2 separate regions of the Homo sapiens genome follow, and region 1 is linked to region 2. Evidence: fine-mapped expression QTL. A gene starts in region 2. The other region holds a variant in brackets. All regions are shown on one strand. Distances are from middle to middle. Region 1 overlaps RABGAP1L (RAB GTPase activating protein 1 like). Region 2 holds the start of CACYBP (calcyclin binding protein).

Region 1 (5,382 bases), 180 kb before region 2:
CTGGGTGACAAGAGTGAGACCCTGTCTCAAAAAAACTCCAAAAATTATCTGGGCATGGTGGCACATGCCGGGAGTCCTAGCTACTTGATTGGCTGAAGTGGAAGGTTGGCTTGAGCCCAGGAGTTGGAGGCTGCAGTGAGCTATGACTGTGTCATTGCATTCCAGCCCAGGTGACAGAGCAAGACTCTGCCTGTCTCTAAAAAAAAAAAAAAAAAAAAAAAAAAGAGATAGTCAGCAAGCCTGAGAGTAAGTATGGGAGAGAGAGAGATGAGTAAGTACAAGAGAGAGAGATAAGAGGATGTTGAGACTAAGATGGATTTTTGGAGGATGGGAAAGATGAGTCTTTAATGCTAAAAAAATTTCCAATGACTCTTAATTTCTTCTTTGAGCACCTACTATATGCCAGGCATTGTACCAGATAGACCCAGGGAATATGAGATTGAGCAAAAGCACATATGCTCTCAGAGCTCATGGAATTCACAGTGTTAATTTAATCACCTTAATAAATGTATACTTACAGAGTGAGATAAATGTTCAGAAGAGATATAATAAAGATATATGAGAGCAAAGAGCAAAGGAACCTGACCTTGACTCAATGATCTAGAGAAAGCATTCTTGAACTGAGATTACAAGGTATTCCAGACTGAAAAGCAGCATATGCAAAGCCTGTGAAGAGGGAGAGAATATAGTAAGTTGTAGAAACTAGGAGAAGGCCAGTTTGACTGTACTTCAGAGAATGATGACAGTTGATATCCAGGGACCAAACCACTTCATCTACCAATAAGAAGGAAAAGCCCACAGAAAGAGAAAAGTTAAAGATTAAATAAAGAAAGGGAAATATATTAACAGGAAAAGGACTCTGAGGAGGTAAGGGATTAACCTCAAAAGAATGGACCTTTCATTACAAGCTGGAGGGAATAGGCAAGGGAAGGATGGGGAAAATGGTGAATGTGTAGTTTGGTGAGGAAGAAATTGAGGATATTTCATTTGAAGTTTTCTATTGTTTCTGTTAAACAGGATCTAGGATGAAGGGAATGCAGTAAAGTGACAGCTTTGAGAAACATGGAAGAGCTTTTAGACTGGAAAAACTCAAAAGAACAGCTAGTCTATATTGTTGTAGACTATGAGTTCATAGTGGCAAAAATCTACAGTGTTTTGTAATTTTCTTTAGAAACATTTAGTAGTCCAAATGTATATATGAAGAAGACAGAAGGTTATTTTAACCACAGTTGAGGTTTGCCAATATGAGGCAAAGGAAGGACATGGGGCCAGGGCAGTTGTGCTAATAAACTGTATATTGGGTTGGGGAGTAAGAGGGAGTAGAGAAAGAGGTATCCCTGATTTGTAGCGTTTGCCCATTTCCATGGTATGAATACTCCCACCATGGCCAAATTTCAAGCTACCAATGACTTAACCGCCCCACTCAATTTCTGAATATTAAGAGCCACTTTTGAGCTGGTAGTTTCTGACACTGGTACACCACAGGGTTGAGGAGATGAGGCTAATAGCAGGAGAGTGGTTGACATGATGGGAAATGGAGTCTAATTAATAGAAAAGAGAGTGAAGATAGATGGGACTGAAAGACTACAAGAAAAGGGCCTGGGAGAAGGGAACAAAGAATTATTGGACTCAGGAAGAATGGCGGAAGAGGAGATTAATTCCCTTATTGGGGGTTACCCAAGATAAAAAGCATCTTTTTCTCAAAAATTCATATATTTTAAAGAGAACTTTCTGATACTAGAAAGTAATATTGCCCTGGGCTCGCCCCTGTAATCTTAGCACCTTGGGAGGCTGAGGCGGGCAGATCGCCTGAGCTCAGGGCTTCAAGATGAGCCTGGCCAACATGGTGAAAACCCGTATCTACTAAAATACAAAAATTTCCCTAGGCATGGTGGCACGTGCCTATAATCCTAGCTACTCAGGAGGCTGAGGCGTGGGAATTGCTGGAGTCCGGGAGGTGGAGGTTGCAGTGAACTGACATTGCACCACTGCACTCCAGCCTGGGCGACAGAGTGAGACTCCATCTCAAAAAGAAAAAAAAAAAAAAACTGCCCTGTGCTCATAATTTCCAGTGATCGCAGCAAAACCATGCCAATTACTATTTTGGCATTCATGGCCACCTCCTATGATTTACTTCTCTTTGTCCTAATAATTCTGCCACCATCACTACCATTTTACTCTGATCACATGATTAAGAGTTGGAAATGCATTGTGGGAGGAATAGACAAAGATGGCAGAGGCAGTGCAGGTAGCGGGAATGAGGGAATGAGGAAGGGCACTCATGGTTAAAAACAGAATCCTGACCCAGCATCTTCTCACACACCAAAATTGTCTTCCTACCCCGTGCTAAAGAGGTAGCTACCAATGATAAGATGTTACTTATCACCTACTTGCCTCAGAAAATTCTAAGCTCTGCTCCAGCTCAATTACCTATATATTGTGCTGGACTATTTTCTACTCTCCCAAAGTTGCAAATACAATTTGATCTTACCCCTCACAAATCATGTTTTTAATGAGACAGTGGTAGATTCCTTTATCTAGAATTTAATTTTTTTTCTCCGAAGACCTCCATATTCATAACTGGATTTGAATGTTTTTGAAAATAACTTTCACAGTAGAGCAAAACTGTAAAGAACAATTGCATTAAAAGCAATTTACCTCTAATTTCTTCATGCTGTTTGCTATTTATTCCTGGCTGTTGTTGCTGTACGTGAACAAGAATGTACTCTCTGAAATAGAGGCTTTCTTTGAATTAGCACTGAGGTCCTACAGAAGTTTTTGTCAACTTCATGGATCTAAAATGTGTGCTTTTATGTACACCATTGAAAAGATTCACTTTTGATTAAAACACATCTTGTGTTCCTTTTCTATAAAGACCTCTATATGTTGACAACCACATTTGAGTTGTTAGGTTTAGTGTCATAATCTTCTGCTGGAGAAATGTTATCATGTTATAGGATACAGATGTGATAATTAACACATTGATAATAAAGCTGGGTGCGGTGGCTCACGCCTGTAATCCCAGCCCTTTGGGAGGCCGAGGCGGGTGGATCACGAGGTCAGGAGTTGGAGACCAACCTGGCCAACACAGTGAAACCCTGTCTCTACTAAAAATACAAAAATTAGCCGGGCATGGTGGCGCACGCCTGTAGTCCCAGCTACTCGAGAGGCTGAGGCAGGAGAATCACTTGAACCTGGGAGGCGGAAGTTGTGGTGAGCGGAGATTGCACCGCTGCACTGCAAGCCTGGGCAATGGAACAAGACTGTGTCTCAAA[C/T]AAACAAAAAAAATTGATAATGAAGTAGTTTCTATATCAAAGCATTTGCCACTGTTTGCCTTTGAGACTTCTATTAACACTCATAGTCTTCAGTGCACCTTAGATTGGGGTATTGTTTTGTTTTATTCCCAGTGAGCAGGGAACATGTTAATGTTGGACATGTTCTGAAACAGTTGATAACAGGCAGAGGAAACAGGTCAGAGCTCCAGATGCTTAGGCATCAGGCACCTTCCACATTTAAAAAACTCAGCTTTTGTGGCCCTTCCTAATCAGCTAGAACAGTGGTCTCCTACCAGGGATCATTTTCATGGAAGACAATTTTTCCATGGTGGAGGGGGAGGGCATTAGATTCTCATAGACAGAGCAGTCTAGATCCCTTGCATGTGCAGTTCACAATAGGGTTCACGCTCCTATGAAAATCTAATGCTACTGCTGATCAGACAGGAGGCAGAGCTCAGGCCATAATGCTTGCTCTCCCACGAGGCACCTCTTTCTGTGTGGCCCGGTTCCTAATGACCGGTACTGGTCCGCTGCCTGGTGGTAGGGACCCCTGAGCTAGAACACATTTGTCTTCTTTATTTGCTTCTGCCATTTTGTTTCTACCCTGTACCTACTTCTGCCAGTCATTTTCTGGCAGTTCATTAAAAAGAAAGCCATACATACATTTTAAAATTAACCTGATGGGTAAACTAATGGATATAAAAATTGATTTATATTTGGGCAACTCTTTTCTTAGAAAAACAAATAGTAAACCATAGGAATAGAGCATTATGCCTTTATAGACGTTCCAAAATTGGAACTATGTGCATTCCATGCATAATTAACAACAAAAAGAACATCAGAATTGCTATCTCACCTAGTAGTTTATTTTTCTTCAAAAACTTTAAGTTTTCTTTTTTTCCCTGCACCTAATTCACGCCCAGCAGTCTTATAATGGATCAAAACCTAATGATTATGCTCTTAAATAAGAGTTTCCATATTTTGTTTACCTTTCTGAAGTGTTTTGCCAATTACCTTTTATCCAGTAGTTGTGATTTATATCTATCAGAGTTGCCATAACGTTAGAACTTGTCTTCACTATTGGGAACAGCAGTAATCAATAATTTTCCCGCAACCATTTACCGTGATTCTACATTTCTTTGAATTATTTTATTTATTTATTATCACTTGAATTCATATTAACATTATGTTTAAAGTGTGCTTCATGATTTGTATTTGGGGATCCGATTTACAGAAGAAAAGAAAACATTCCTCTGAACCCTTGTTGCTTCTCACTGGAAATAATTTCATTATGTTAGGCAACAATAAAAATAAATGAAGAGAGGTTGGTTAATGAGCACACAAGCATACACTTTGATAGAAGGAATAAGTTATAGTATTCAGTAGCACATCAGGGTGACTATAGTTAATAATTTATTGTGTACTTCAAAATAGAAGATTCAAAAGGTTCCCAACAAAAAGAATTGACACATGTTTGAGGTGATCGATATCCTAGTACTCTGATGTAATCATTACACATAGCATTCAGGGAGCAAAATATCGCATGTTCTCCATAAATATGTACAATTATTATGTATCAGTAAAAATAAATTAGAAATTGGCTGGGTAAGTGGCTCATGCCTGTAATACTTGCCTTTGCCTCCCAATACTTTGGGATACTTTGCCGATCACTTGAGGTCAGGAATTTGAAACCAGCTTTACCAACATGGTGAAATCCTGTCTCTACTAAAAATACAAAATTTAGGCCAGGCGCAGTGGCTCACACCTGTAATCATAGCACTTCGGGAAGCCAAGGTGGGTGGATCACCTAAGGTCAGGAGTTCGAGACCAGCTTGGCCAACAGGGTGAAACCCCGTCTCTACTAAAAATACAAAACTTAGCCAGGTGTGGTGACACGTGCCTGTAATCCCAGCTACTAGGGAGGCTGGGGCAAGAGAGTCTCTTGAACCAGGAAGGCAGAGGTTGCAGTGAGCTGAGTTCGCTCCACTTCCCTCCAGCCTGGGCGAAAGAGTAAAACTCCATCTCAAAAAAAATATATAGATATAGATATATACATATCTATATATATATTAGTACAAAAATTAGCTGGGCATGGTGACACACGCCT
Region 2 (5,382 bases):
CCTGCACAAGAATAACACACAAATTCATTAAGCATTCCATATTTTGCACAGTCCCCAGAAGGTCATTTATCTGCTGACAAGCCCGAAGGGAACAGTATGAGTCATAGCAAAAAAAAAATTAAAAATATCCATTGAATTTGGCAGTTAGGAAATCATGAGTAAGCTTGACAGGTACATTAACTGGGGGAAGCAGTAAAGGCTGCCTGCAATAGGACAACTGAATGAGAAATAATTTCATTTTGAAAGGAAAATTATTCCAAACTTTGGAAACAAGGCAAAAAGGTGAGTGGCATGTCCTTTCAGTGTCAAACCAAGGACTAGGGGATTGTACTTTGTTCATTTCATCGTTCACTATTGATTTAAAAGTCCTATACTGAATCTATACATTAACTTGTAGATTTTTGTCCAGTAAGAATGCAAATCCCTACTTCCTTTCCAGTGGAACAGATAACACCAAAAGTTATAGTTTATTACCCTGTGAGACATTAACAGGTTTATATCTAACCTTGCCACCTTATACTAACATTACATTGTTAAATTGCCTATAAATACCTGGCTACTCAAATACACTCTCAGTAACTAATAAGTCGAATAAAGTATTTGTCACATGTCCATTTATATTTGCATAATATTGTCTGGAAAAGCCTCCCTTAGTGTTACTTCTGAAAGACCTAAATAGAGTGAAGAAACGATCTGTGTGATGACCTAGAGGAAGAGGATTACAGGTAGAGAGAAAGCTGGGTACAGACTTGGAGGCAAGAGCAAACCCAGTGGGTTCAATGAATAAGTAAAGTGCCAGACTGTTTAAATCAGGGAGCGGGGAAGGAAGAGTGGTGAGAGATGGGTTCTGACATGAAGCTCATAAAGGTGAGATAAGATACGTAAAACACTCAAGTTCACATTAAGGAGTTTGTACTTTATTCTAAGCCTAATAGGAAGCTGTTAGAGGTTTTTAAGCAAAGGGATATAATGATCTGAAAAGATATCTCGAGCTGCTCTGTGGAAAACTAACTCTTAAGGCACAATGGGGAAGCAGAGAAATCAGTTAGGAAGATAAATTTCAGACAAAATAATGATGACTTGGACCTGGGTGCGTAGGGTAAGAAATATCTTTTCCTTCTACCCATTTTAGGCTCACTGGCTGGGGATCCTGTAACAAAAGACAAATTAACAAGAGAAAAGCATAAATATTAATGTTAGTTTTACATAACATGGAAACTTCATAAAGAAATGAAGACCCGAATAAATAGTTAACCTTAGTGTTGTTTAGAGTAGGTTTGAAGAAGAATGGAGAATTGTGGGAAAATGTGATGGGGCTAAAAGACTGTGATCTAAGGGTAATAAACTGGGGGAAACTTAGCAAGGCCTGATGTTCATATTCGTCTCTACGTCCCTGTGTTTTCAGAGATAAAGATGTTACTTTTATTCCAGGTATAGACAGGGCAATTCTCACATGAGGGTATTACGTCCTGCTTCAGAGCAGAAAGGTGCAAGAAAGTTAGAGACATTCCTGCATATGTTCTTTCTCAAATTCCTTCAGTTCAAAGTATTCAATATGTCTAGGTGCCATATTTTTGGGTAGCATGTCCCAAACCCCGTCAGGTGGTAGAAGCAGAGGTTGTGAGAACTCGTTAAATTCGCTACATATTTTGAAGATTAAGCCAGTAAGGCTTGTTATATAAGATGTAAGGCCTGAGATAGAAGACTCAGGTATGAGTCCTTAGCCTGAGCAATTAAGAGAACGAGGTAACTGTTCACTGCATTAGGTCCATGGGATATTTGTTTTTATTTAATTATGTACTTAATAATTCCAGGCTATTGGTTGGACACTTAAAAAAATTTATACGATAAAATACACAGCTCTTAGGAGTTCATCCCATGAACTTTGACAATTCTATGTATCGGTGTAATATTTCCATTACCTGGGCAAATTCCCCTTCGCCGGGCCTTAAGCATAATCTACAGAAAAAACTACGTACATAAATATACGTTTACAACTCAATGAGATTTCTAAAGTGAACCCACCTATCTATAATCAGTGTCCAAATCAAGAAACATTACCTGAACCTCAAAAGCCCCCTGGTGGCTCTTTCATGTCATTGTCCTCCCCACTATGCTCATTAACACCATGGGCTAGTTTTTAAATGGAACCACGCAATATGAACTCTTCCATGTCTGGCTTCTTTCCCTCAACTTCATTTTTTTGTGTGAAATTCACGCATGTTGCGTTTCGGTAATTTATTTTTGTACTGTACTTCCGATTCTTTACTACAGATAATGGTCAGCCTCCATTCCGCTAACAGCTTTTTTTCCTCTCCGAGTTGCTGATTCTAATTGCTGCCTTGGACGATCTATAAAGCTGAGTGCGCGCTATGTGACCTCTCAGGGGTCGCTGCCTTGGACGATCTGTAAAGCTGAGTGCGCGCTATGTGACCTCTCAGGGGTTGTTTCCAACCGTGTTGTTGACATCTTGAGCCTGCCAAGGACTAGAATAATCTGAAAACTAGGCTTCTCTGGGGGTCTCACTGAGTGACAGGGTTAGAACCAGAAGAGAACATCGTCTCCAGAAGACATTTCACCATTTTCTTTGATGGTAAACAGGCTCACTTATACCGAATCCAAACCCAGGCGAGAACTACGGACTCTTGAAATGGTCGGTGAAAGGGGCGAAAGCACCAGGAAATCGTGCTTCAACAGTCCATGACTGAAAGGAGGGCCTGAAACTGTGGCCATAGGCGGGCCCTTTTGTTAGGGCCTTGACCTGGGCTTCCGCTACAGGGCCCGGTCACGAGGCCAACGTAGCTCCACCTCCTACGGCGGCCAGTGATGACGCCACCACGTCGGAACTGTTAGACCGCGGTGACGTCTCCACCGCGCCAAACTCACTGAAAATCAAACCGCTACCATTAGGAGCCCTCCACGCTTAACATATCCGTTCTTTCTCGTTTGAAAGTAACCAGGCTGCTCCTCCCCATTTTTCGCCTTCTTCTCGCGGAGGCTGAGAGACTAACCTTACACAACATGGCGGCCTGGTGTGTCTGGTGTCCTAGAGCGGACGAAAGCAGGTGACTCTCTAGTCAACTTCCGACTTGGACTCCGAAGATCGGTACGTTATTTCCGGGGCTGGGTTAACGCAGCGGTTCCGAGCTGCGACTGCGCAGCGTGGCCCAGCGCGGTCAAATTATAATACATAAAAGTTGTCAGGGCGGAGAGCAAGACATTACTCTTCTCGGATTGCCGGTTCGCTCGCGAGACTTGAGCGTTGCTAGGAGATTCGGCAGGCGGGCGGAGCCAGACTCGGCGGGGCGGGGAGGGGTGGGGCTAGGCTCGGCGAGGCGAGGAAGGGTGGGTGGAGCCAGGCTTGGCGGGCTGTGCGTGCTCGCGGTGGGCGGTGGCGGCGGCTGCCTCGCGAAGGTTCGAGATCCGTCGCGTGCGGGAGGCGGGCCGCGATCTTGCGCAGGGTCGGTGTGGGCGCAGGCTGCAGCGCCGCGACTCGTGCGGGTAGGCGTCTGCGCTCGGTTTGAGGGCTCGGCGCGGGGTTTCCTGTTCCTCCTTCTGCGCGGCTGCAGCTCGGGACTTCGGCCTGACCCAGCCCCCATGGCTTCAGAAGAGGTAAGTGGTCCGGCCCCATATTCCTTATGCCCCCCGGCTGGAGCTGCAGCGCCAGCCTCCCGCCCTACCGCCGTTTCCGTGGGCTGAGCCGCCCTGCGGCCACCCGGTCCCGCGCCAGTCAGTGCGCCGCCTTCCCGGGGGACACCTCACTCGCCCCTTGCTGCGCCGTCGGCTCCCCAGCGCTTCCACTCGACCTCGCACCCCACTCGCCTGCTGGGCTCGAGCGGGGGTGTGCGGCGATTATCCGTGCAGGCGGTGCGGGGAGTGGGTCTGGGAGAGCGGCCCTTTGCGCGTGTTCCTCAGGCCCTTTCTGCCCTGGTTTCCCAGCCAGTGGACAGGAAGCTTCATTCAAGCAAAGCTGGGTGCAAACATGAGTGTCGTTCTTGGTAGAGGGCGGTTGGAAGGTGAGTTCTCAGTGCTAGCACTTGAATTCTCCTAGTCAGGTTTTCTCTACACACGAGGAGCTGTGTTACTCTGGGCAAGTTGTTTAGCTTCTCTGTGTCGCAGTAGCATCCATTTCATAGGGTTGTTAAAAAATATGATTTCTAGGTGTTTAAGTCAGTGATTGGCAAACAGCAATCTGCTGTATGTGATTTTTAAAATAAATAACTTGGAAAGTTAGTTGTAATTAATAGTAAGAAAGCGAATGGCCTGTGTTAAAGCTCTGTAAACTCTGAACGTTGGAGAATTAAATTTTGTGGAGACTTAGTTTGCTCAGTTAGAAAATGGGAATGATAGTACTTGTATTGCTCATTTCCTGGCGTAAGTGGGAGGTGAAGACGGGACAGTTATTCACAGTTAAGTGTTGGGTGTGTATTAACTAGATTTGCTTTATGAAAACAAGTACTGGGGAGTCCCAAGCTTTTGTTTTGTTTTGTTTTTGTTTTTTAAACTCAAAATCTTTTCTTTAAATGAAGAAAAACTATGAGGTTTGTGTGTTCCAGTATTAATCTGGGTATCTTGTGACAAGTCTTTTAAGGTAGGTCTTGGGTACTATGTGCCCCTAGGAGATAACTTCACAGTCTTGCAGGTGGATAGCTCAGTGTTAGTCCTCTTGAAAGTAGAGATCGTTCTCAGTTTAGGCACTTAGAAATATACATTTGAGGGCACTTGATTTTTGTTTTGTTTGAGATAAAATTCAAGTTTTTAACCATTTTAAAGTGTACAATTCAGGTATTTGTTTTTTGTTTAAATATATTCACAGTGTAGTGCAGCCATCACCACTGTCTAGTTTCAGGACATTTTCATCACTCCAGAAAGAAACCATGTAGTGTGTTTTAAACAATTGCTTCCCATTCCTCCCTCAGCCCCTGACAACTACTCATCTTGTACTTTCTGTGAATTTGCCTATTGTAGGCATTTCATATAAATGGAGTCACGCTGTATGTGGCCTTTTGTTTTTTGGCTCCTTCAACTTAGCACTAACATTTTCAAGTTCATCCATGGTGTAGCGTGTATCAGTACACATGCTCTTTATGGCTAAATAATATTCTATTATATGCATGTGGCACATTGTGTTTATCCTTTCATCCGTTTATGGACATTTATTTCCACTTCTTTGTTTGAGACGGAGTCTCGCTCTGTCGCCCAGGCTGGAGTGCAATGGCGCAATCTCGGCTCACTGCAATCTCCGTCTCCCGGGTTCAAAGGATTCTCCTGCCTTAGCCTCCTGAGAAGCTGGGATTACAGGCGCGCGCCACCATGCCCGGCTAATTTTTGTATTTTTAGTAGCGACGGGGTTTCACCACGTTGGCCAGGCTGGTCTCGAAC

The links. PIP is the estimated chance that this variant, and not a neighbour inherited with it, causes the effect.
Region 1: its variant is the best candidate, but not a certain one, in a credible set for the expression of CACYBP in whole blood (INTERVAL, PIP 0.50).

What each region holds. Positions count from the first base shown.
Region 1 is chr1:174,818,990-174,824,371 of GRCh38, forward strand. The region is part of intron 19 of RABGAP1L (RAB GTPase activating protein 1 like); the gene reads left to right. Among named protein-coding and RNA genes, the nearest start is that of RABGAP1L-AS1, 130 kb to the right of the region's middle. The variant C/T (reference allele first, on the strand shown) is at 3,276.
Region 2 is chr1:174,996,584-175,001,965 of GRCh38, forward strand. It overlaps CACYBP (calcyclin binding protein), which reads left to right and starts at 3,364. Exons shown (of 6, transcript NM_014412.3): 1 at 3,364-3,612. The coding sequence starts at 3,598. It overlaps LOC105371622 (a long non-coding RNA gene), which reads right to left and starts at 3,063. Exons shown (of 2, transcript NR_188647.1): 1 at 3,012-3,063; 2 at 896-1,150. It also overlaps the pseudogene RNU6-307P. RefSeq lists enhancers at 2,485-2,694, 2,637-3,173, 2,725-3,234 and a silencer at 3,265-3,384.